4 linked regions of the Homo sapiens genome follow. The protein of the gene in region 1 interacts with the protein of each later gene in a biochemical or structural test. Each region holds a gene or a part of one and is shown on either strand. Other genes may lie near its edges. The genes, in order: RAB6A, RIC1, ERC1 and GORAB.

Region 1 (5,966 bases):
GTTCAGCTATGGTTGTCCCAAGGCAGGGGTTGCCCTTTTCTCTGTAAAGGGCCAGATAGTAAACAGTTTTTTGGGTTTTAGGGCCATAAGGTCTGTGGCAGCTATTAAGCTCTGCCATTATAGTGGGAAAGTATGGCTGAGTTCCAATAAAACTTAATTTTTAAAACTGGTTCCAGGCTGCATTTGGTGGGAGGGCCACAGTTTGCTGGCTCCTGTCCCAAGGCAAAGGTATAGTTAGGAGTGAGGACGCAAAAGCAGAACTTAAGATGCTTTTCTTAATATGTCCTATTACTGCCTCCACCAGGGGATGTATCTTTCAAGTTGCAGCCCCTCTCCCCCACCCCCCAACAATACCCCCATCAAAAAAAGAGTCTTTGACTCCCTAGGAGTTCCTCACATTTGTTGTTGTTATTTTTCTGGATTCTGTCCATGTCTGCTTTAAAGGTCTTCCCAGAGAGGGAGAAGTAAATGCTAATTCACCATCTTGGCAGGAATGGGAAACCAGGTCAATAATTGTTTTCTTTCGTGTTTTATTTATATATTTTTGGCAGCAAAATTGTGTTTATTAAAAAAAAAACCTGGACTATGAACACACTTCAATGCTTTGAAGAACTCCAAGCCAAATAAAAAGACCAATCAATATTAAAAGCAGTATAACTGGTTACTTTCTTAAAAATACATAAAAAGAATCAAATGCAACAGTGTAGGAAGACAATCACACCCATGTCAGAAGTCACAACTTCTTCCAAATAAAGAATATGACCCATCTGCCATATTGAATCAATATTTATTTCAGGACATGCCATGTCAAAATAAAACAAAGAGTCAACCCTTGCCTTTAACAATTATATTGTATTATAAAAGCACTTTACAACTCCATCCCATCTTTAAGTATAAGTTACTGGTATGTGGGCTAATGATTATCTGTAAGCATTTCTCTATTCAGATCCATAATCCAAGTGCTCTCTGAATATTACAAGGTGACAATAAGTGGGAAGTGGAGGAGGAAGAGGAAAGAGAGGGGACTAAGGTTCTCCCAGTTTAAGGTTTTGTTCCAATGAGGGGATGAGGAAGTATGAAGATATTTTTGTTGTCTTTTCATCTTTATACTGTGTTAAGTAATGCTTACAACATAAATTCAGCAGGCTTTTCCTGAGCTGTAACTCAGAAGTTTTCGTCCTGCAAACAATGTATTTACAAATGTGTTTATTAGCTTACACAGCAATCTCACAATAACTAGTAAAGATTAAAAGGGCACACTCCTAGTATATTTGTTTGCAGTGTTTTAAGGGAAATACATATTGCCATGGTGAAGCTCTAAATAGATTCAACGAAACATCTGAAGATTGAAAGTTGTTAAAAAAAAAAAAGGCAAAGAAATAAATATCACCAAAGAAAAAAGATTAATTGTAGCTTAAATATAAAACTAAATCACCAGTTAATTAAACTATACAGATCTAATACAAACCAAAACCAGCCTGAAAGACCCAACCTTAAAAAATGCTAAAAAATAAGGCATAAATCTGCATAATATTGAGTTTTATTTCCATTCTCTCCTTTCCCTCTACTATGTATGCTTTACCTGATCTGCCTCTAGGGGCTTACAAGAAAACGGTTTCCGGTTTCCGTCTTCAATTTGACCTCAAATGTCCTGAGCAAAGTTTTTGTTATTCTGCTGAGGGTTCTTTTGTTGGTAAGCTTTAGACATCATTATTTCTACTAATTCAGTAGTTTTGATCGTAGCGCCAAATTTAAATTCTTCCACTGGTTCTTCTGGAAGGAATTAAAACTTTTACAGTGCCTTGCCTGCACAGTATTATGTTTTTAAAAAAGAAAACCCAAGCAAAATCTATTGCTTAAAGAGGTTTCTTATTTTTTAAACAAACAGAATAACTCTTGACAATTTTAAAACCTTGGGAGAAACAGTTCATTAGAACTTCATTTTCTTACCGTGAAGAATTAAATACTAAAAACCTGTTCTGAAGCACTTGGTTAATTTTCTCTCCCAGAGTCTAATAAAGCACATGTGAAAGAGCCATTTGTTTTAGTCAGAAATACATCTTATGTTCTTCTACTTCTAAGTACTCAGTATGTTCTTTAGGACTCATTTTGAAGATGCACCAGGAGCCTTTTCTCATTCAAGCACTGCCTACCATGATGGCTGAATTTTGACCTCAAAGAAGACCGTAATTTATATCAGTGCTCAAGAATAATTTTGGACATCTTGGTCCGTAGCCTACAGCAAGTGGTATCTGTAAAATTAAAGGATAATTCCAATGGGCTTGGTAGAACTGCTGCTTTGCCATCTCTTGTTTGTTTTGAGGAAGTCGGGGGAGGCTAGGTAAGAATAGGGTAATAGGGAATGGGGGTAAGTGAGAGGTGAGAAAAGCAAGGAGAGATAAAGTAGGCTGTGAACATACCGCTCGTTAACCAAGCCATACTCATACTGTTGAGATTTCCATCATTTTGAAGTACATTATCATAACATTAAAAAAGAAAAAAATGTTAAGAAAATGTATCTAATTTTTAAAGTTATCACTGGAATATGCTGAAATATTTTGGCTTTTTGTAAAATATAAATAATGAAGACACTGACTTTTGTTGTGCTTGTGAAGCTAATAGATCATCTCCACGAGACAGGCAGCAATGATGAATTGCAATACGTTATTACTGAAGGGAAAAGGTTCAAGCCAATATTCACACTGCAGTCAATGAAAGAGTAAGGGGGCCAAAGCAGTGAGCTTCTGAAGAAGGTTGAAGATGACATGGGAGATTAGCAGGAACAGCCTCCTTCACTGACTGGTTGCTCCTGAGGCTTTTCCAGTTTTATGTCAATCACTGAAACAAAAGTTAAGAAGCCATAAATGGGAAAGTACAATTTCAATTCTTCCAAACACTAGCATTTCTGGGATGGCCCTTATATTCCTATCTGTCTTCAGAGCCTACACACTCACTATTTTCTACATAGCCGCCTCACCATATAAGGTGCTCAAATGGAATAAACTTGTTTATATCTACTATATGCAACAAGGGTCAGAATGAGGTACAAGCTCTATTTATGGGTATCTATCCTAAGGAACTTATTCTACAGTGGCAAGAAGTGATATGAAGATGATGTTCCTCATAGAATCATCTATAATATAAATCTGAAAATAGCCTACAAGATAGTTCCAACAGCAGAGGAAACATTTAGTAAATAATGGGACTTCAGGCCGGGTGCCGTGGCTCATGCCTGTAATCCCAACACTTTGGGAGGTTGAGGCAGGCCGAACACCTGAGGTCAGGAGTTCAAGACCAGCCTGGCCAACATGGCGAAACCCCATCTCTACTAAAAATATAAAAATTAGCTGGGCATGGTGGCTCATGCCTGTATTCCCAGCTACTTGGGAGGCTGAGGCAGGAGAATCACTTGAATTCAGGAGGCAGAGGTTGTGGTGAGCTGAGATTGCGCTGCTGCACTCCAGCCTGGGCGACAGAATGAGACTCCATCTCAAAAAAAAACGGCGGTGGGCGCGGGGACATACTTCAACTCAATAGAACATTTTTTGTTGTTGTTGTTGTTTTGTTTTTGAAACATATTATGTTTTATGTTGTTGTTGTGTTTTTTTTTTTGGGGGGGGAATGGAGTTTCGATCCTGTTGCCCAGGCTGGAGTGCAATGGCGTGATCTCGGCTCACTGCAACCTCTGCCTCCTGGGTTCAAGCAATTCTCCTGCCTCAACCTCCTTAGTAGCTGGGATTACAGGCGTGCACTATCACGCCCAGGTAATTTTTTTATTTTTAGTAGAGACAAGGTTTCTCCATGTTGGTCAGGCTGGTCTTGAACTCCCGACCTCAGGTGATCCACCTGCCTTGGCCTCCCAAAGTGCTGGGATTACAGGCATAAGCCACCGCGCCCGGCCTGTTTTATGTTTTTTATGAAAACATATAACATTTACAAGTGGGAAGAGCTGAATACAAAGTGCTACAAACTATATGGCTTAATAAAAATGCCTGCATATGGAAATACACTAGAAGGTGAATATGAAACACTGAAAACATCAAATTAAAAATCCTTAGAATTAACTAATATTAGATGTCCCAATCCTTGGAAATGAACTAATATTATGTCCTGTTTCTGAAAGCAGAGGCTACAATAAAGCTCCACTCTATTTCTTGCCTGTGTCAAGTAGAAAGCTCAAGTGTTAGAAAAAGAAATGAAAATTTGATATTCCATGAGGAAAAAGCCTAGAGTCAATGGGACTCAAAATGAAGAGGCAAGGACACAGGGATTCTAAGAGTTTCCTGCTCATTTAAAAGCAAGCAAACAAACACAAAACCTCTCACTGATTAACAACGAGAAGCAGGCTGCAAAGGGTGCACTTGGATAACCAGACCTCATTTGCTATAGAAAACAAATGAATTTCTATGCCTTTAAGTCATCAGTTCCTGGTTGTAAAAGGCAATGGCACAATATTCTTTAGCCAAGCAAGCAGGGCTCTAAAGACTAGTGTTAATAATGAAAAATTTCCAATGAAATAAAAAGGATACTATCTTCTCTGCTTCTGTCCTGTGTGCTTTCCATTCCCGGCAAAGCTGCTGCTACACGTCGAAAGAGCTGTGGGAAAGAGAGAAAAGTGATAACTGAGAGGGAACATTTAGCAAAGGGTACTGAGGTTTATGATCACTGTACAGTGAGCTGTCTAATGCTGGGCGCAGTGGCTCACACCTGTAATCCCAGCACTTTGGGACCCACCCGAGGTGGGCAGATCACTTGAGGTCAGGAGTTTGAGACCAGCTTGGGCAACATGGTGAAACTCTGTCTCTACAAAAAAAAACACAAAAATTAGCCAGGCGTGGTGGCACACGCCTATAGTCCTAGGTACTGGAGAGGCTGAACCTGGAGGACTGCTTCAGCTCAGGAAGTGGAGGCTGCAGGGAGCTGAGATCACGCCACTGCACTCCAGCCCGGGCAACAGGGCGAGACTCTGTCTTTAAATAAATAAATAAATAAATAATAAAATAAAATGTCTATTCATTCTATAAACGAGTATTATATAAAAAGCAATATACCAAATACAAAGAGGTATAAAGACATGATTCCTGTTTTTTTAACTGGTGGGATAAGACAAAAGTAAACAGCTATGAAATAAGCAGCAAAAATGTCATTTGAATAATAAAGTATTACAGAAACGCAGAAAAAGGACAGATCATTCATTTAACAAAACTGTATAGTAGCATTCCTATCTTTCATATAAAGAGTGAGGTTCAGGGCTGGACGCGGTGGCTCACGCCTGTAATCCCAGCACTTTGGGAGGCCAAGGGGTGTGGATCACGAGGTCAGGAGTTCAAGACCAGCCTGGACATGGTGAAACCCTGTCTCTACAGAAAATACAAAAATGAGCTGGGTGTGGTGGCACATGCCTGTAATCCCAGCTACTTGGGAGACTGAGGCAGGAGAATCACTTGAACCTGGGAGGCGGAGGTTGCAGTGAGCCAAGATCACGCCACTGCATTCCAGCCTGGGCGACACAGCAAGACTTCTTCTTGGCGGGGGTGTGGGGGGGAGAGTTAGGTTCTGAAGTCAGTGTATAATATATTGTGAAACTCAGTCCAGTCAAAATTATCCTTCATCGTTCATTAGAAAAGCACTATGTTAGAGATTAATACACCACCCCTCAAGTCCAACACAGCTGGCTTTTCTTCCATCATTGGAATGAGTGTCAGTGGGAGTGGCTGGCTTGTGTTTGAGGTATGAAGCTATGAAAAGTTATCTTCAACAGGAGAAACGCACTCAAGCCTGGTGAGATGTTTACTTTTGAGAGGCATATGAGAACAGATACTGGAACAACAGTTTATACTTCTTATATTGTCCCAATCTTAGGCATACACCCACTGGGTACAACAGCCAGTGAAACTGCCTGATTATTTCAATTATTTATCTTTTAATTAAGCACACAGTGTAAACCCATAAATTAAATGCATATG
Region 2 (7,029 bases), on another chromosome or scaffold:
CATGGTGAAATCCTGTCTCTACAAAAATTAGCTGGGCACGGTGGCATGCAACTGTAGTCCCAACTATTTAGGGGGCTGAGGTGGGAGGATCACATGAACTTGGGAGGTTGAGGCTACAGTGAGACGAGATTGCACCACTGCACTCTAGCCTGGAGAATAAAGAGAGACCCTGTCTCAGAAAACAAGAAGAAAAACTTCAAATAAATAACCTAATGATGCCTCTTAAACAACAAGAAAAGCAAGAGCAAACAACCCAAAATTAGTAACAGAAATAATAAAGATGGAGCAGAAATAAATTAACTTGAAATGAAGAAAATAATGCAAAAGACCAAAGAAACATAAAGTTGCTTTTTAGAAAAGATAAACAAAATTGACAAACCTTAAAAGAGAAAACCAAAATAAATAAAATCAGAGATAAGAAAGGAGATATTACAATTGATACCGCAAAAATTCAAACGATCATCACAAACTACTATGAGCAACTATATGCCAATAAACTGGAAAATCTAGAGGAAATGGATAAATCCCTAGCACATACAACCTACCAAGATTGAATCATGAAGAAATTCAAAACCTGAACAGACTAACAACAGTGAGATTGAACCTGTAATAAAAAGTCTCCCAGTAAAGAAAAGCCCAAGACCTAGTGGTTTCACTGCTCAATTCCAACAAACATTTAAAGAAGAACACCAATACTACTGAAACTGTTCTGAAAAATACAGGAGGAGGGAGTACTTCTAAACTCATTCTATGAGGCCAGGATTACCCTCATACCAAACCCAGACAAAGACACATCAATAAAGAAAACTACAGGTCAATATTTCTGATGAACACTGATGTGAAAACCCTCAACAAAATACAAGCTAATGAGATTCAACAATATATTAAAAAGATCATTCATCATGAACAAGTGGTATTTATTCCAGGGATGCAAGGATGGTTCAACATATGCAAATCAATCAATGTGATACATCATATCAACAGAATGAAGGACCAAAACTATATGATCATTTCAACTGATGCTGAAAAAGCATTTCATAAAAATTCAACATCCCTTCATAAAAACCCTAAAAAAACTGGGTATAGAAGGAACATACCTCAACATAATAAAAGCCATATATAACAGACCCATAGCTAGTATCATACTGAGTATGTAAAAACCGAAAGCCTTTCCTCTAAGATCTGGAACACGACAAAGATGCCCACCTTCACTATTGTTATTCAACACAGTACTGGAAGTGTCCATCAACAGATGGATGGATAAAGAAAACATGGTACTTGCACATAATGGAGTACTATTCAGTTACAAAAAAAATGAGATCCGGTCATTTACAACAACATGGATGGAACTAGAGGTCATTATGTTAAGTGCAATAAGCAAGGCATAGAGAGACAAACATCGCATGTTCTCACTTATTTGTGGGATCTACAAATCAAAACAATTGAACTAATGGTGATAAAGAGTGGAAAGATGATTACCAGAGGCTGAGAAAGGTAACTGGGGGGATAGGAAGGGAGGTGGGAACGGCTAATGGGTACAAAAAAAGAGAATGAGTATGACCTAGTATTTGATAGCACAACAGGGTGACTACAGTCAAAATAATTTAATTGTATATTTTAAAATAACTATGAGTACATATGGATTGTTTGGAACATGAAGGTTAAATGCTTGAGGGGATGAATACCCTATTTTTCATGAACTGATTGTTACAAATTGCACGCTAGTATCAAAATATCTCATGGCTGGGTATAGTGGCTCATGCCTGTAATCCCAGCACTTTGGGAGCCCGAGGTGGATGGATCACTTGAGCTCAGGAGTTCAAGACCAGCGTGGGCAACATGGTGAAATCCCATCTCTATAAAAAATTACAGAAAAAAAAAAATTAGCCAAGTGCAGTGGGGCACACCTGTAGTCCCAGCTACTTGGGAGGCTGAAGCAGGACAGCTGCTTGAGCCCAGTAGGCAGAGATTGCAGTGAGCTGAGATTGTGCCACTGCACTCCAACCTGGGCAACTGAAGTGAAACCCTGTCTCAAAAACAAACAAACAAACAAAAAAATCATAAATATATACCTACTGTGTTCTCACAAAAATCAAAACACTAAAACTTAAAAAAAAATTGCTGTGCCACACGTATGACAAATACCTTAAATTCATTAATATTAAAAATGTTTATTAAACATCTTCCTTGTACAAGGCACTATAGATAATACAAATTAAGATAGTTTCTGTGCTCCAGAAACTTATAATCTAGCTGGAGAAATAAAGCATAAGTGCAAAACTTACGATATAAAGCAGTAGTTCAAAGGAAAAAGCAAAATTGTCTCTGAAGATGACATAATCTTATATTTAGAAAAACCTAAAAACCACCAAAAAATTTAGAACTAAGAAATGAATTTAGTAAAGTTGCAAGATATAAAATCAATATACAAGAATAAGTTGTGTTTCTACACAAGAACAATGAGTATCTAAAAAATAAATTAAGAAAACATGGCTGGGAGTGGTGGCTCACACCTATAATCCCAGCACTTTGGGAGGCTGAGGCAGGCAGATCAACTGAGGTCAGGAATCGATACCAGCCTGGCCAACATGGTGAAACCCTGTCTCTACTAAAAATACAAAAATTAGCCGGGTATGGTGGCAGGCACCTGTAATCCCAGCTACTCAGGAGGCTGGGGCAGGAGAATTGCTTGAACCCAGGAGGCAGAGGCTGCAGTGAGTTGAGATCGCTCCATTGCACTCCAGCCTCGGTGACAAGAGCGAGACTTTGTCTAAAAAAAACAGAAAAAGAAAAAGAAAACAATACCATTTATGGTAGCTCCAAAAAACTAAATACTTAGAATACATTTAACCGCCACTAAACACCATAAAATGCTGATGAAATAAACTGAAGAAGGTACAAATAAATGGCTGGATATCTTATGTTCATGGATTGGAAGAATTAATATTGTTAAAATGTCCCTACTATCCAAACCAATCTATGGATTCAATGCAATCTCTATCAGAATTTCAATGATATTTTCACATAAACAGAAAAACAATCCTAAAATTTATACAAAACCACAATAGCCCATGAATAGCCAAGGCCATCTTGAGAAAGAACAACAAAGCTGGAAGTGTCACATTACCTGTGTGTTAGTCCATTTTCACACTGCTATAACAAACTTCCCTGAGATTTGGTAATTTATAAAGAAAGGTTGAATAGATTCAGTTCCATAATGGCTGGTGAGGCCTCAGGAAACTTACAATCATGGCAGAAGGGGAAGCAGGCACTTGTTACATGCTGGCAGGCAAGAGAGAGACAGAGCGTGTAGAAGGAACAGTCAAACACTTATAAAACCATCAGATCTCGTGAGAACTTACTATCACAAGAACAGCATGAGGAAAACTCCCGCTATGATCTAATGACCCCCTACCAGGTCCTGCCCTCCATACATGGGGATTATGAGGATTACGATTAGAGATGAAATTTGGGTGGGGAAATAGAGCCAAACCATATCAACCTGATTTCAAAGTATATTACAAAGCTATAGTAATCAAAATAGTATGGTACTGACATAAAAAGAGATACATAGACCAATGCAACAGAATGGAGTCCAGAAATAAAACCACGCATGCATATATAGTCAATCTTTCACAAAGTGCTAAGAATGGAGAAAACACATCTTGCAACACTGACTTTTCAACACCATAGTGTTAGAAAAACTGGATATCCACATGCTAAGGAAGGAAACTGGACCCTTATCTTACACTATCAACTCAAGAAGGATTAAAGACGGAGGGGGAAGGAAGGATGGTTAATGGGTACAAAAAATAGAAAAAATGAATAAGGACTGGGTGTGGTGGCCCATGCTTGTAATCCTAGCACTTTAGGAGGCTGAGATGGGCAGATCACTTGTGTCCAGGAGTCTGAGACCGGCCTGGGCAACACAGCAAGACCACATCTCTTCAAAAAATTAACTAGGCATGGTGGCATGCATCTGTACTCCCAGCTACTCAGGATGCTAAGGTGGGAGAATTGCTTGAGCCCAAGAGGTCGAGGCTGCAGTAAGCCATGATCATGACTCTGTACTCCAGAGTGACAGAGTGAGACCCTGTCTCAAAATAATAATGGTGATGATGATGAATAAAATCTAGTATTTGATAGTACAACAGGGTGACTATAGTCCTGTATCAAAATATCCCATATACCCCACAAATACACAGATCTACTATGTACCCACAAAAATTAAAATAAGAAGAAGGATCAAAGACTTAAATGTAAAACCTGAAACCATGCAAATCCTAGAAGAAAACAGGGGAAAAACACCCTGACATCTGTTTTCACGATGGTATTTTGGATGACATGGAAAGCACAGGTGACAAAAGCAAAAATAAACAAGTAGGATTACATGAAATTAAGTTATTGTACAGTAAAGAAAACAATCAACAAGATAAAAAAGCAACCTATGGAATAGGAGAAAATATCTGCAAACCATACATCTAAAAGGGGGCTAATATTCAAGATATGTAAGGAACTCATACAACTCAGTACCGAGAAAAAAACAAAACAGATAACCTAATTTAAAAATGGACAAGAGATCTGAACAGATGTTTTACCAAAAAACAGCCAATGGCCAATAGGTGCTCAATACACTAATCATCAGGGAGATGCAAATCAAAACCATAAGATACCTCACACCTGTTAGGATATCTATTATCAAGAAGTTAAATCATAACAAGGTCGGCAAAGACGTGGAGAAAAGGGATCCCCTCCCTGTACACTATTGACGGGACTGCAAAATGGTACAGTCATGATGGAAAACAGAAGTTCCTCAAACTAAAAACAGGACTACCACATGATCCAACAATCCTACTTCTAGGTATATATCCAAAGGAATTGAAATCAGTATCTCAAAGAGATATCTGCACTTTCATATTCATTGCAGCATTATTCAAAGTAGCCAAGATACAGAAACAACCTAAGTGTCTGTCAATAGATGAATGGATAAAGAAAATGTAACACACACACATACACACATAAAATATTATTCAGCCTTTAAAAAACAAGGAAATCCTGCCATCTGCAACAACATGGACAAAACTTAAGGACAGTATACTAAGTAAGCAAGACAAAAAACAACTTCATGATCTCATATATGGAATATAAAGACGTCAAATTCATAGGAACAGAGAATAGAACGATGATTACCAGGGGCTGGGAGGTGGGTGAAATGGGAGTATTTCAGTCAAAGGTACAAATTTTCAGGTATAAGATGAATACGTTCTGGGGACCTAATGCATGGCCCAGTAACTATCGTTAATAATGACATTTATTTCCATAATTAACATATATTGTATACTTGAAATTTGCTAAGAGAGTAGGTCTTAAGTGTTCTCATCCCACATACAAAAAAAGAGGGAGCTGTGTGAGATGGTGGATCTGTTAATTAGACTGATTGTGATTATCAACTCACAGGGTAGATCTAAGTATCGCACAGCACACCTTAAATATATACAATTTTTATTTGTCAATTATACCTCAACAAAGCTGGCAGTAGTGGGGAAGCAGTAGTTCATCAGAAAAATGAACACTTATGGTTACGGTAGGTAAAGAATGACTCATAAAGAAAGGATTTCAACAGCAGTTAAAGGATAGATAATACTCTGACAGGCAGAAATGAGGCAAGAGAGCATTCCAAGAAGGGAGTGTCTGTGATATCAAACTAAGGAGTTTGAACTCCATTCTTTCATCAACAGTGAACCCTAGAAGACTTCAGAGCAGTGAATTTATAAAGAAGGCTCTCTGGAGAAAGTAATAGAGTTAAAAGGGTGAGAAATGGGAATGCTGGGAAAATACAAATAAAATGGTCTTCCTGAGGTCAACACAGTTAATCACATACCTGATCCAAAGCTTGGTTCTTTTGACATATCATTGTTTTTTTCCATGATTAGCACATACCAATGGGAACTAAGTTTTTGCTCAGGATTACTAAACGACATATAATTTATTTTATAAGCCTAGTAATTATTTGCCCATTTCAGCTTTTTATTAGCTACCTACAACAGTGATATCTCACAAGATTTATATTAACACACTAACATCTAACACACTAACATATAACATGTCTCTTCATCCCTTTTATACACATCTGTCTTTTACAGTTGATGTTCAAAAATACTTCTGAAGCTAATTTAAATGTTTAAAGTCGGTGACCTGAAAAACGAGAATGTCTATACATCTAATTTAGAATGGCTAAATTCAAAGATACCATTCTGATGTTCACATATATAGACTTTCATAGTCACAGTTAGTATATTAAAGGAATAATTCTGGGCCCTCAGTACAGTACAAAATGTAATTCATCTCACACTACACCTACGTCAATCATAAATCATAACCTACCTTATGCAACAGTTTCATCCTCAAAGCTGAAACTAGTCCTTTTACAATAACCTTAGCAGAAATGTACCAACTGCCCCCAGTCAAGTTCTACCTCTACCACCCCAATCTAGCCTACACATACTGAGCCTTTTTTTAACACCATTTGGGGGGCTCCAAAATATAATATTGGGGCTCCAATATAAAAAAGCTAAGTAACTATCTAGAGGCTCTTTTGTTCATAAACAACACTATACTGTATTTCTCAAATTTGGGGTAGGAAATAATTCTGAAGAGATATGAGTCTAAACAGTGGAATTCCGAATACCTACTTAGAATAGAGGACAGTAGGTATAAGTAGTACATAAAAGTTCATTAGAAGACCCATATAATGTACAGTTAGAGATTTTAATAGAGATTCAGTCTTATGAATTATCACTGTACACATACAATTTCCACAATTCTTTTGAACATTGAAACAACCAGCTTAGACTACTAAACGACTGTCCCTTCCACAAGGCTAGTTGTCTCTTTTTAAAATATATCACTCCTAAGAGAGCCTGATTTACTAAGTGAGCCCTAACAAAATTTCAGGTAAGCAAATCTTGTTTTATCATCTCTACGAGCATGTCTCCCTGCCTTCAAATGCCCTCAAGCAGCTGTAAGACT
Region 3 (7,495 bases), on another chromosome or scaffold:
TTCTTAAACCAAAATACTTCATTTCTTGATCTTTTTCCATTAATGTTTCTGATGAAATATGTGTAAAATACACATTTAACAACTCTCATACTTCTAAATGTAAACATAGTGTAAAACCGAGCAGCTGTTGCTATGAAAACCTTCACTTTTTTTTTTTTTTTTTTTTTTTTTTTTTGAGACGGAGTTTTGCCGTGACTCAGGCTGGAGTGCAGTGGTGCAATCTCGGCTCACTGCAAGCTCCACCTCCCAGGTTCAAGCAATTCTCCTGCCTCAGCTTCCTGAGTAGCTGGGGTTACAGGTGTGCACCACCACACCCAGCCAATTTTTATTTTTATTTTTTGAGATGGAATCTCGCTCTGTAGCCCAGACTGGAGTGCAGTGGCATGATCTCGGCTCACTGCAGCCTCTGCCTCCCAGGCTCAAGCAATTCTTCTGCCTCAGCCTCCTGAGTAGCTGGGATTACAGGCATGTGCCACCACGCCCAGCTAATTCTTATATTTTTAGTAGAGACAGGGTTTCACCATGTTGGCCAGGCTAGTCTCGAACTCCTGACCTCATGATCCGCCTGCCTCGGCCTCCCAAAGTGCTGGGATTACAGGCATGAGCCACGGCGCCCGGCCAAGAACCTTCACTTTTAAGTTTGCAGTATTAATGTTGAATTAACAGACTGGCATACTTATCTATGACACAGGTAATGAAGGAAAAAAAACACCTCAGTAGACTCAACAAGGATATCACAAGTAATGACTAGCAAGCAACATTTTTTGAAAAATAAAATGTAGGCATAATTTCAGGCACAAGAAATGCTAAACGAAATAGCTTACTTTTACCTTAAGACTTTCCCCAAATTATGTGATTTCATTCCTACAAGGACAAGAATCACAGCTTACTACCAGCCATGCAAATGTCATTTTAGGAGTACACACAAGTTTTACCCAGTATCTTAGTTCACATTTGTCCCAATTAATTAAGTCTATGTATAATTTAAAAGCGAAAACTAGATATGTCAATTTTGTTTTCCTTCTAACTAATCCAAAGTCAAAACTGTTCACTTTACCAAATGAATTAACTGAATACAGTTAATTAAATCTTTTATTTATAATTAAAAATTGGAACACACACTTTCTCACTTAATACCTATTATGTCCTGTTTCCCATACCTCTCTATAAAGTAGAAGTATTTGCTGGAAGACAATAATCTGCTCATTAAGTAGGCACTTAGAAAAAGCAACGATCTGCAACTACTGAAATTCTTATCTGTATATTTCTCTTTTGGGTTACAAGAAAGCACTTCTCTGGCTATTTTCCCAAATAAACTAGGCAAGCCTTGGGAAAGTCACTGCTTAAATCCCACTTTCTGACAGCTTCTCTTCCTCCATAAATGAATTATTGAGAGCCATGTCTACTTCCATCCATTACATAATACATGTCCATCATGGGACCTGTTTTCTGAACAAGAAATAGCTTAAATGACACTAACTGATAAGTAGGGCCAGAGAATACTGTAATCTAACAGGGAGCAAGAATCCAGAAAAGAAGATTCTGATTTACAGTGCTAAGTTGTGAAAGAGTGATGTGAAGAACATTGAACACTGCTTACTCTAATATTTCCATACAAAGTGACACACCTGCCCCCAAAATGTTTTTAAAGCACTTGACTCCAAGAACATTTCTCAGAAATTGAGGAGCCTACCAAAAAAAAAGAGTTCCATTTCATTTTAAAGTGTTTTAATAAAGACTGCAAGAAACATAACTGCAAATGAGAAATAAAATTTCAACAATTTAGCACTGAACACAAAATGTCTAAAAGTCAAGGTGTACTGAGCAAGCAACACGCTATAAAAGACGGTTGTACTTTAAAACATTTAAGCATTTTTCATATAATTAGCTCCAACAGAACTATTCCAATTGTTCACTTTATCCACCCAAAGCAGTCAACCACAACCACCTGCAACTATTATTCAGCAATGTGCCTTCCAAAGCAACCACCTGAGTTTGGGGCCTTCTCTCAAGGGGCCAGGATAAAGCCTGTAAAAGGGTGGTATAAAGAGATCTTTTAGGCATTGGGGGGAAAAAAAACTGGAAGACACCACCTTGAAGGAGCTAAGCGTAATGCGACCCAAATGGTGGCTGCCGGAACGAAGTTGTCTAAACCGAAGATCTCCCTCTTCTTCGGTGTAAAACTTTCAGATACATCCACGCTCACAATTTACCTGAGCCAAAGTAAGGGGATTCTCTTCCCTCTCCGACCCCCCACCCACCCCGCCAGAAGAAAAAGAATCGAACCCTAAAGTAGAAACGTGAGATCTAGTGCAATAAAATAGGTTCTGCAACTGCCTCAAAGGCAACATGCACAGCTCATCGTCCTTTTGAAATACACTTCATCTTTTATCTCACCATTTCATCGAAAAGAAAAGAATCATCTTCAGCATTTTACATCACTCACCTAACCCAAAGATCCACCCTGACCGCACCCCAACCTCATGGCTCCCCAATTTCTCCGTCTCCCCACTACCTCGTCCGCGGCTTCACTAGTCCTAAGCCTCCCCCCCTCCGCTCCCCAAGTGCCCAGAGCCCCAGTCCCCACTCCCCCACCTCCCGCCCCAGGATCCCCACATCTACCGCCTCGGCTCCCGCCCGATCCCGGAGCCCGGCTGGGTGGAGCCCGCGGGTGGGCGCCGGTGGTCTGGGTGGGGCCCGCCCCTCCCCACCCCCCGGGCTGCCGAGGAGGGGGAGGGGGTCGCGAAGCCTCACCTACAGCTCCGCCCCTCCCCGGGGGCGCGTTGCCCTGCCCAGCCCAGCCCGGGCCGTGAGCAAGAAGCTGGGTAGGAAAGGCGAAAGCCTCAGCACTAGCGACAGGGGGGAAGCTCTGGGTCCCGCGCGACTTCCGCGCTGTCGCCGCCGCCGCGGCCGTCTCACCGTCCTCAGGGCTGCCGCTACTGCTGCTGCTGCCGCCCAGGCACCGCCGCCGCCGCCACTACCGCCGCCGCCGCCGCCACAGCACGGCCCAGGCGCCCGCGACGTCACCGCGCCCCGCCCCCTGCGCGAGACACCTAGCCCCGCCCCCAGCCCCGCCGCGGGGCGCAGCGCGCCTCCCCGGGCTCCCGGCTCGGCTGCCTCCCTTTCCCTCAGCCTCCCGGGAGCGTGACGCGGCGGCCCGGGGGCCTCCGGGCGCCTTCCGGGGCACGCGGGTGAGGAACTGGGAAGCGGGGGAAATCGGCGCCACGGCGGTCGATTAGCACCGAAACAGAGTGATGGGCGCGGAGCGTCCCTGCACACACACACACACTCACACACACACACACACGACCCCTGCGGCCACGGGAGGGGAGAGCCGGGGTCGGCTCCGCGAGCGCAGGGTGGCGCTTGTCTCCTCCTGCTTGCCGTAGGAAGTGGACGCTGGAAGCCCGAGGAGCCGCTTCGTGTCTTCCCAAACCTAAGCGGCGCCCCACCCCCTACTTCTCGTGGCCCGTTACGCCCGGGGCAGCCAAGCGCCGCGGGAGCAGCGCCGGGATCGACCCTGGCTGCTGGGGGGACGCTTTGTCCCAAGAAAGCTGGTTTTTTGCCCCTTAGCTTCGTGGAACGCGGCCGCGAAATTAGTGGTCTTCTGACCTGAGACTCGCGGGGCTGCGCACACGGGCATCGCCGAGGACCCCAGCAATGGACGTCGTGTCTGTGGTGATCCCGCCAGGACGCGGGGAGCGTGGGCGGAAATTAGTGTCCACGTTCCGACCCTGCGCTGTGCCAAACGCTGCTTCGGGAGCTGTTTATTTAGCCTCCGACAGCTAAGCGAATCGGCGGGCGGCTGGGGCCTGGTGCAACCCGATTTTCTCGTGCAGACTCGCAGCCGGCTTTGGTTTTGTTTTTTGTTTTTTGTTTTTTTTTTGGAGCCATGCAGAGGGTAGCTACAGCCATTAATTTAAGGATGTAGATAAGCTATCTCTAAACCAAGAAAGTAAGAATGGTGTGAATTATATTTATTCCCAGCCTTCCAGTGTTTATTAAAATAATTTTCGGTGTCCTTGAGAGGAGTTAAAAGCCATCATTTTACTCCTGCTTACCTCCGCCACCGTAATTAACCACTTTATACTGCCTCATAATCCCATTAACAAATTGCAGTCGCTCCTCAGCCTTCACATTCATTCACTCACCAGTTTCTACTGTTTCATCCTGCCCGGACTCTTAACTGTTCCCTCCCAGGATCGACATGCACTTGGATCATTGCAGTTTCTGGGCCTGCTGTCATCTCCCCCTTCAGTACTTCCCACATATGACTACCAACTGTTAGACGATGTGCTGCTGCCAGACCAGCCTTTCATTTCTTGGACATCCGGCTATTTACCCAGGAAAAGTCATCCTTTGACTATTTTTCATGACCTTTCTCATCTGACTCGTGATCTGCCCATCTTGTTACTCCCTAGCAGTGTGGTAAGGTAAGAGAAAATTCAACTAGGAGTCAATAGATATTTCTGTTCTCATTCTCCCACTGTCTACTTGTGTGGCCTCAGGCAATTCATTCTACTTGTGGTCTTACTTAACTGTAAAGTGAGGTTTGAAGTAGGTGTCTGAGATACATCATGTCCTTAAAATATGTGGATCTGGAGAATTAAGTTGCTAAGCGCTATGTTATACACGGAAATACTGTCCTAACACAGATTCAGATTTTTGTTTTTTATTTTTTGCCACCACACTGGCAAAAAATATTATTTCCTGCCCTGCTCCAGTTATCTTTTTTAAAACCTACGTTTAGGATTTTTGATTAAAGCTAGCTAACCGAGCACATGTATTTACTGTCTCTTCTTCCTGAGACCCCATAAAATGATGATAAATAAAAGTGATACAAAATAGAAAATGAGAAGGGGGACATCGGAAGATAATTTTTTTTTATTTGACATGCAAAAAGTAAGTGTGGTCTGACAAAATAAAATGGAGAAAAGCATAATGTAGAATGGGTGTAGAGGGTGCTGTAGAAAGGAAGGGGACCTGTCAGCCCAGAAGTGCTTTAGGGAGACGGAGATTTGGAGATAACTACCAGACAGAGCAAGAGTGAGAAGCAGAGTTGAGACCAGGGAGACTAAATAAAGGTCTATATAAGGAAGAGCAGAACCCTCCCTATATCTCAGATACAATATCTAGGCATTTATCCAGGCTAAAATTAAGCACTCTGATAATCTGGGGAGATTTGGGTTAACTGAGTATTGAAGGGCCTAAGAGTAAAGTATTCTTTATTCTAGCACAATAGCTGGTTTCCTACCCACCCACTTTAAAGTGTAGTTGGGCAAGTTGGCAGGAACTTCCTGCTATGGTTTGGATATGGTTTTTTTGTCTCTACCAAATCTCATGTTGAAATTTGATTCCCAGTGTGATAGTATTGGGAGGTGGGTCCTGATGGGAGGTGTTTGGGTCATGGGGGCAGATTCTTCATGAAGGACGTGGTGTCATTCTTACAGTAGTGAGTTCTCACACTTGCGAAACTATGTTGGTTATCAGGAGAATGGATTTGTTCCTTGGAGAGTGGTTTGTTGTAAAGCCAGGACTCACCTCGGGTTTGATTTCTCTTTGCATGTGCACAGACACTTTTCCTTGACCTTCTCCGCCATGTCTTGATGCAGCACAAAAACCCTCACCAGAACTGAGCAGATGCTAGTGCCTTGCTTCCTGTACAGCCTGCAGAATTGTGAGCTAAACAAACCCGTTTTCTTTATAAATTACCCAGCTGCAGGCATGCCTTTATAGCAACATAAAATAGACTAAGACACCTCCCAAGTTCACAAGACTCCCCATCAGCATTCCAACTGCCTCATACGTATGAACAGACAACTAAGTGTTATTAGGTATTTAAGAAAAGTCTCCAACATGGACTGTGGGGGCAGATAAACAGAAACTTCAGAGAATTTAGAAAGGAAAACCTAATTAGTATACTAGGATACTCAGATGAAGTAACAATCCAAGGTTTAAAAATAGATCTTGAAATTTAAAATAAATTGCCAAATTATAAATTCAATTAAAATATTGAAAGATAAAGTCACTGAACTTTTAAAGAAAATAGAAGAAGCCTGGGCAACATAATGAGACCCCATCTCTTTAAAAATGTTTTAAAACTTAGCCAGGTATGGTGATGCGCACCTGTGTTCCTAGCTATTCAGGAGGCTGAGGTGTAAGTATTACCTCATCCTGGGAGGTCAACGGAGCAGTGAGCCAGGATGGTGGTGCTGCACCCCAGCCTGGGTGACAGAGCAAGATACCTTACTTCAAAAAAGAAAAGAAAATAGGGCTGGGTGCAGTGGCTCGCGCCTGTAATCCCAACACTTTAGGAAGCTGCACCCCAGTCTGGGTGACAGAGCAAGAGACCTTATTTCAAAAAAGAAAAAAGAAAATAGGGCCGGGTGCAGTGGCTTGCGCCTATAATCCCAACACTTTAGGAGGCCAAGGCAGGCAGATCGTTTGAGCCCAGGAGTTTAAGACCAGCCTGGGCAACATGGCAAAACCCTTTTTCTACAAAAAAATACAAAAATAAGTCAAGTATGGTGGCATATGCCTGTAATCCCAGCTACTCAGGTGGCTGAGGTGGGAGGATAGCTTAAGCCCAGGAGGCAGAGGTTGCAGTGAACTGAAATAACACCACTGCACTCCAGCCTGGGCAACAGAGCCAGATCCTGTCTCAGGAAAAAAAAAAAAAAGAAAACAATAAATATACAAAGGGGTGGAAATTGTGAGAGAAAATAAGATAAAGAATTAGTTCAACAGGACTAATATTATGTGAAAAAGAGAAAACAAAGTTAATGAAGGACAGAAAATTATTGAAAAAATAATGCAAGACAATTTCCTAGAACTGAAAGAATCCACTAGTGCAGAACCAAAAGAAAAAAAAAATTCAACCATGTGAAATGTTTGAACTCTAAATATAAAGAAGATTCTAAGTTTCCAAAGAGGAAAAAAAGGAGCCCATAAAAGGACAAAAATCAAACTGGCGGGCTGGGCACGGTGGCTCACACCTGTAATCCCAGCACTTTGAGAGGCTGAGGCGGGTGGATCACGATGTCAGGAGTTTGAGACCAGCCTGGCCAACATGGTGAAACCTCGTCTCTACTAAAAATACAAAAATTAGCCAGGCATGATGGCGGGCACCTGTAATCCCAACTACTCAGGAGGCCGAGGCAGGAGAATTGCTTGAATCCGGGAGGCAGAGGTTGCAGTCAGCCGAGATTGTGCCATTGCGCTCCAGCCTGGGCAGTGAGCAAAACTCCATCTCAAAAAATAAAAATAAATTTTAAAAAAGAGTTACTTAAATGTGTGCTCAAGCAAAATGAGGGAGAAATCAGGGTATCTGACAACATCCAGTAATCACTAGATCCAATTCAGGAAAACAGTAAAGGGAAGTCCCAGGAACTTAGTTAGATTGGAACAGAAGGGTAGGAGTTCTGGGAGAGAAAACGCCCGGAAAAGAGAGAATTAAACAGAATAATCAGTTACTATGATAAAAAAAAAAAAAAAA
Region 4 (7,087 bases), on another chromosome or scaffold:
TGCTTTTGGTAAATAAAAGTAGGAGTGTCACATGTCATTTACTGGTGAAAGGATTTAATTGCCAATGTTCAATTTTCAATCTTCTTTTCTTCCTACTATGGTAAACTCCTACAAGACAGCACCAAAAAACGGAGTGACTGTGCAACACAGTCACCTGCCAAACCCACATTAAACATGAAACGAGTGAAAACCAAATCTTTATTTTAAACAATTGACTTATTAGGGCTATTTGTTACTTTAGCTTAACTTGTCTTAACCTGATTTCATAAATACCAATACCTCTGAAATTCCCTCTCCCTGATCACATTCCCACGCCTCCCCACTATATACAATCATACGTCACTTAACAAAGGGATACATTCTAAGAAATGTGTTGTAAGGCAATTTTGTCCTTGCGCAAACATCAGAGAGTGTATTTACACAAACCTAGATGGTACAGCCTACTATATACTTAGGCTATATGGTACAGCCTTTTGCTCCTAAGCTCCAAACCTGTACAGTATGTCACTATACTGAAGACTGTAGGCAACTGTAACAACGGTATTTGTGTATCTAAACATAGAAAAAGCATAGTAAAAACAGGGTATTATAATATTACCAGACCATCACCATATATGTGGTCCGCTGCTAACTGAAATACTGTTATTGAGTGCGTGACTGTATATATTATATATACAGCTAGCTGATCCTTGGTATATGAGGATAATTGGTTCCAGGATCCCCATGTATACCAAAATCTGTGCATACTCAAGTCCCACAGTTGGCGCTGTGAAGACCACATACACCAAAAGTTGGCCCTCCATATACTCAGGTTTTGCATCCCCCAAATACTGTATTTTTTAAATGCACATTTGTGTATAAGTGAACCATCACAGTTCAAACTTGTGTTGTTCAAGGGCCAAGTGTAACTACATATACTGTATTAACAAACATTTTAATGCATGTGGCTACAGTTAATACTAATATATTCCCACCAGCTGTACAGTAGCCCGCTAGATGAGTATACCACAATTTATTTATCCATTCCCTTGTTAATGGACACTTTGGTTGTTTCCAACTTCTTAATATTATAAACAAGACTATTAACAACTTTCTTGACTATGTTCCTCAATGCCCATACAGGGGTCTCCAGAGTACTACTGTCCTTATTTTTCCTGGCAACCAACTCCATCTTCCTAAATTATTCAATAAATTTTTAAAGATAGAGAACAGCTAGAAATGGCTTTAAAATTAAAGGGCCAAATCCTCTAATTTTACAAATAAGGAATCCAAGGAGAAAAGATTTAGAGGAAGAGCTGGAAGTTCTATATGCCAATCACTGTGTTTAGCTACGGGTATACAAGGAGGTTAAGATATTTTCCGTCCTCGAGGTGGTCACGGACTAGCGATTTGGTTTCCACACTACAGTGGGCCTTGAAGTTCAGGTCCTCACCATCCTCTATCTACCCCCGGTTGCAAAGATATTTCAAAATATACTTCTACATAATGAATATGTTGTTTAATTTAGATTTTTATATTAAGTCATCTTTACCCTGGAAAATGCGCCTCTGCTAACACACAAACTTTGTGAAATCTTCCCAAGCTCCATCCAATCCCCGGCAGAGTGAGGTTCCTCTTGTCTCTGAAGCAAGTTCTTGCAATATCTACTATCACATAACTTTGTGGTTTGTCTCCTCATGAGTCTACTGGAGTCAGACCAGAGGCCAGGGCACTTGTACCCTGTATATCAAAGTATGTGAATGGATGTTGAAAACACAAAGCAAAAGAATTTGAGTATATCAAGCAACACAGAGTCAGTTAACTACATAGCTTAGCCTAACCTTTATGATAGAGTTTTTAAAGTCCCCTGGACCAGTCAAAATGTCCCCAGTCGATATAATCTACATTGGCCCTATCTTACTAATTTACTTCTTTTCCCACTTGTCTGCCCTAGATTATTCTCATATTTATGCTAAAAATGCACAAGCTACCAGAGCAACATCCAATTTCCCCACAAACGCTAACAAAAGGTTTACTTCATTTGCTACCAAAATAAAGTATTTGAATTAAGGTACCAAGAGTGATGTACACTTCTTACAGAAATTGTGTGTACTACCACGATAACCATACAGATCACTGCGAAATTTCAACCACAAGCAAAGTGCAATTAATATTACTAAGTTTTCCACCAACAATCAGCAAACTTAATTCCTTCCACAACAACAAAAAAATTGTACAAGCCCATTCAATGATTACTCTATAAAGCCAGAGAGAGAAGCACAAGGTTAGCTTACTCCAAAGTCAGTAAGACTGTATGTATATAAACATATAAAGTCTTCACATCTACCCTCTCAAAGACCCTTTTGGTTTGCTGATTCTCAAAAATTGGGAAGTACTGCAAAAATCATCTGGCAACCAGAAGTGAATGCAACACTCCAGATGAATTGTGAAAAGTACCGAATTTTTGCCTTTATTCAGACGCCTGTGCTCCTTTTTTCCAACCATCTGCTTCTATAAATTCATCACAATTCTAATACGGTGTGCGCCCCTCCTCCTTCCCTTACCCTGACCCTAACCTTCCAACCGTTGATTCCTGCAGCAATCTTCCCTAAGGGAGACACCCCGGCTGTAGGCTCACTTCCTCTCCCAAGTCCCATTCCTTTCACAAGAGTCAAATCCCTACAGTGGATTCCTGGACCGTTTTTTCTAAAAGAAGATCCCAGTCCTCTGGCTTGCCCCTCCCGTCGTGACTCCCAGTAAGTCCTCCTCTGAAACCCCCTAATCCAGTCCACGTACTTACAGCGCCTTCCGCTAACACAAACGTAGCCGCTTCCACGCCCCCTTTCCCCGCCAAAGCTGCATCCCCGCCTCTTCCCCTTAAGACCCAAGAATTAAACCACTGTAAACCCATCTTGTAACCTTTAGTCTGCTTTAGTCTCCTCAGTTCCTCCTCAGAGAATCCTGCCCAACCTTGCGCCATCGGCCCGGGCCACCGGCACCCCCAAAAGTGCCCAAATCTCGCAGCCGCGACTGCCAACACTGCTGCCCAGCTCATCCGGGTTTTTCCCCGGCCGCGGCCAATCAGTGCATCGGGCTCCAAACACAAGGCCCTCTCTCCCCGGCCTCAGGGTCCGGCTTCCTTCCAGGCTGCCTTCAGCAGTGCCTGACAAACTGCCTAAGGAAACCTTGCCACGCAGACATTCGTTTCCTCTGGCTTACCTCTACTCTCTCTCTCTCTCATTGTTTCTCACTGTTGCTGGTTAATCGCTTCAGGAGCTAAGGGGGGAAATGGCGATGGGGATAAGGGTGGAGATAAACAGGTATTTGGGAAGGAGCAACAAGTCGGTGGCGGAAACGGGAGATCTAAGTGCCTTTGGGGTCCTGTACCTGTGGGGCGGGAGCGGTGCTCTCTGTGGCTCTTAGTGTGCCCTAAAATCCTTGTGTTTTGCTGGGAGTGTGCACAGCGCTGGAGGCCTCCTTCAGATTAACTCAGGAAATGATCAGATTTAGGATTTTGATGATGAAGAAACATTTAAAAGGGGTGGGGTATAATTGATGAAAAGGGAACAGGCATAACCAGGTCTCTCGCAGGCCGGAGCGGCTCTCAGATTTCTTTTGCTTTGGGTTGTTTCCTTTGTGAATAATTATAATATGTAACTTTCCTCTTAAGGGATTTCTTTTTCTTTTTTTCTTACTTTTTTTTTTTTTTTTTTTTGAGACATAGTTTCGCTCTTGTTGCACAAGCTGGAGTGCAATAGCACGATCTCGGCTCACTGCAACCTCCGCCTCCCGGGTTCAAGCGATTCTCCCGCCTCAGCCTCCCGAGTAGCTGGGATTACAGGCGCCGGCCACCACACCCGGCTAATTTTCTGTATTTTTAGTAGACACGGGGTTTCACCATGTTAGCCAGGCTGGTCTCGAACTCCTGACCTTAGGGTATCCGCCCGCCTCGGGCTTCCAAAGTGTTGGGATTACAAGCGTGAGCCACTGCGCCCGGCCGGGATTTCTTAGTCTCCCCTTTAAATCTGTTTTTCAGAGAAGACATTGTAAAACGTCGGTGCTGGGGGATGGGAAAGCATTTCTTAGGATCCTGCCTGGAATCCTAATACCGTAATTCGGGTTCTGCCTTGAACACTAACCTGAGATCCCATTTCCTCATTTGAAATATGGTTGCAAAGATTAAAAGATGCAAGCGTTGTCAAAATACACATAGATAAGGATGATTCAAGAGAGACCTAGTTATACTATTTTTCATGGTTCTCTTTCACTATTTTTGCAGTAAGAACAACAAAACACCTCATCTTGGCTTACATTTTAAAATACTTTGGCTTTAGTGTGTTGATATTTTTAAACAAAATGAAAGAAAGGAGTAAAGTACAAAATAAAACACGTCAAGAAAAGTTGAAATGAGTACTTCAGATTTAGTAAGTGATAAAAAGTGAAGGATGTTTGGAATTTCCCATGTAAATCCGAGCTTTTAAAACTTAAAGTGGTTTCTGAAATTTGGGGATGCTGCAGATGCGTCATTTTAAATATGTACTCATTTTTTATAATATTAAACAATCAAAATGCCTGGAGGAGACAGTTACCACCAGTTTCTGAATATAGACTGAATATAGACTACGTATATTCAAGTTATAGATTATCTAGCTCCAAAGTAGTAGATGGGGATCAGTGGCAATCTGGTAGTTAATTCAGTTTCCTAGTTGCAGGCAACCGCCATCTAGTTCATCTAATAACAGTAAACCACCTTGTGTGCCCCATGTTGAATTTTATACATAAATGTTCTTTAGTTCACTCTGGGGGAATTTCAAAAATTATCCGTAATCTTAATAAAGATGTAAATTAGGATATTTTAAAAGGTTTTGCATTGGCCCTTAATGAGAACCAAAGCGAAAGTGACACGTGGTAAAAGATAATAAAATCCGTCTGTATAAAAGTTATAATTTCCAGTTTGCTAGGTTCTAAATCTCCTGTTTGTTGTTTCTGTTGGCTCTCCCTCATGGTGGCTAGTTTCTTCAAATGTTGTGTAATATTTAAGTGGGAATTTATCTTCAAAGTTCTTTGTTCTGCAGAAGTCTTCTCTTCCTTGAGTTAAGAAAGTGTCTCTACAGATTGGTTTTATTGGTCCTAAAGTTTCAGTTGTTTTAATCCAGATTTAAGGTAATTTTTTCAGCTTCTACTGTAAATTTGGTTCTTGGGTCCCACCCCCATATATGATATAGGACTCAGGTCTCAGTATTTTTTAATTGCCTTTATATGTATACAAATTATACACAACTTTATTTCAACAATCTTGTCTTCAAATATGTGAAGGAATCCCAATCCCTAGGATCTATATTTACATAGAATCCCCCTTTCTATATCTCTTTAGCTTTCTTTTAAGTTCTATGATGTATTTTTTGATTATGTAAATAAAAACATGTTATATGTTTTTATGTAAACAAAAAACATAATAATATTACTCACAGATAGCAAGCCTCCTTACTGCTTTTCCAAAGCAACAGTCTTAAGTTTTTGTGTTTTTGTTTTTTTTTTAAAGACAGGGTCTCACCCTGTCACGTAGGCTGGAGTGCAGTGGCATGATCTTAGCTCACTGCAACCTCTGTCTCCAGGACTCAAGCGATCCTTCCATGTCTTTGTCTCCAGAGTAGCTGGGGCTATAGGTGCCCACTACCATGCATGGATAATTTTTATATTTTTTTGTGGAGACGAGGTTTGCCATGTTGCTCAGGCTGCTCTCCAACTCCTGAGCTCAAGCGGTCTGCCCAACTGGGCCTCCCACTTGCTGGGATCACAGGCATGAGCCACTGTGCCTGGAGTTTTTCTAACCCTCTGTGATCATATGGTCTGTCTTTTCTAGACTCAGCTTTATTTCAGCAATCTTGTCTTCAAATTATGTGTAGGAATCCCAATCCCCAGGACCTATATCTAGGTAGAGGCCCCCCCTTTCAACATCTTCTTTGCTTTCTTTTAGGCTCTGTGATATATATTTTTTGTTTACATAAATAAGAACATGTTATACAGTATTTAGCATCTTTATGTGTTTATAGAAGGGGACCACCTATGACAATTTAGACAATATCTCTGGTTGATTCTCCATCAGAGCGCCTAGAATATAAAAATGAAGACTAATTGTGTCTGTAGCCTGGTCAAAACAGTAAAATGCTTTCCCAGCACACTTTGAATAAAATCCCAGTTCCTGCATGTTCCTACATGATCTCACCCCTGTCTACCTCTCTTATGTGATCATTAGGCTGTCTTTCCCTTTACTCTGCACTCACTATAATCCAGCCAAAATTGGCATTCGTTGGGGTTTTGGAATACACCAGACTCTCTTTTCTACTATCCTCTACTACCTACCCAGAGCTTTCCCAAATGCTGTCCTTTAATTATTATCTTTCCCTTGTCTGGCTGGTTCTTCCTGCTTCTTTACGCTTTGGCCTTAAATATTCACATAGACGTTCTATGACCACCCTATCTAAGTAGCACCCGCCCACTTCTATGTTTTTTATAACTTTTTACAGCACTAATTAAAAGTTCTCATCTCTTCTGTCTACAGACTGAGCTCCTTGCTTTACCAGCATTTATCCTCGAATGTAAAGTGACCCATCCAATTCCCTTTTTTATACTGCCAGTTGCCTCTCTTCCTTTCCTGTCCCTGCTCCTTTGCCTGACTCTTCATTTCTACCTACGACTTGGGGATATAGGACTGCCTTTCTAACCCTTATGCCTTCCTTACTCAGGATCTGTAAGTAAAAATCTTTGAACTTATTTCCTATTGTGGTTGTGTATTGAATTTGTGCCTTCCATCTGGAGAACATGGGGCTACCCCAGACCAAGTTTTGCCCTGGAGAAACACAGGTTGGACTCCCAGTGCCAGAGCAGTGGTCAGAAAGGCATTGAGTGGATGTGGGTCAGACAAGAGCCACAAGGGTGTCTGCCAGTATAAAAGAGATCACCCTGTGAGGGACCCCCTGGTTGTGGGTCAGACAACTAGGATGTCTACCAGGTAAAAGAAGTATCCCATGAAAGGCACTCTGTAAACACCCATATCTAGTTCCCCTTCATTTCCTGTAAGGTCAGGGTTGCTGTGGTACTACAACCC

What was found.
Region 2: the proteins of RAB6A (region 1) and RIC1 form a complex in vitro, tested with the Homo sapiens proteins (one study listed by IntAct).
Region 3: the proteins of RAB6A (region 1) and ERC1 form a complex in vitro, tested with the Homo sapiens proteins (one study listed by BioGRID).
Region 4: the proteins of RAB6A (region 1) and GORAB form a complex in vitro, tested with the Homo sapiens proteins (one study listed by BioGRID).

The regions. Positions count from the first base shown.
Region 1 is NC_000011.10:73,675,125-73,681,090, forward strand, and holds the end of RAB6A (ras-related protein Rab-6A), read right to left. Parts: intron 4,597-5,966; coding exon 4,530-4,596; intron 2,839-4,529; coding exon 2,774-2,838; 3' UTR 514-2,773; downstream 1-513. UniProt on the Homo sapiens protein: The small GTPases Rab are key regulators of intracellular membrane trafficking, from the formation of transport vesicles to their fusion with membranes.
Region 2 is NC_000009.12:5,632,081-5,639,109, reverse strand, and holds part of RIC1 (guanine nucleotide exchange factor subunit RIC1), read right to left. Parts: intron 1-7,029. UniProt on the Homo sapiens protein: The RIC1-RGP1 complex acts as a guanine nucleotide exchange factor (GEF), which activates RAB6A by exchanging bound GDP for free GTP, and may thereby be required for efficient fusion of endosome-derived vesicles with the Golgi compartment.
Region 3 is NC_000012.12:986,747-994,241, reverse strand, and holds the start of ERC1 (ELKS/Rab6-interacting/CAST family member 1), read right to left. Parts: upstream 3,020-7,495; 5' UTR 2,920-3,019; exon of another isoform or gene 2,755-2,919; intron 2,693-2,754; exon of another isoform or gene 2,623-2,692; intron 1-2,622. UniProt on the Homo sapiens protein: Regulatory subunit of the IKK complex. Probably recruits IkappaBalpha/NFKBIA to the complex. May be involved in the organization of the cytomatrix at the nerve terminals active zone (CAZ) which regulates neurotransmitter release.
Region 4 is NC_000001.11:170,528,096-170,535,182, reverse strand, and holds the start of GORAB (RAB6-interacting golgin), read right to left. Parts: upstream 3,018-7,087; 5' UTR 2,960-3,017; coding exon 2,899-2,959; intron 2,736-2,898; exon of another isoform or gene 2,574-2,735; intron 1,720-2,573; exon of another isoform or gene 1,532-1,719; intron 1-1,531.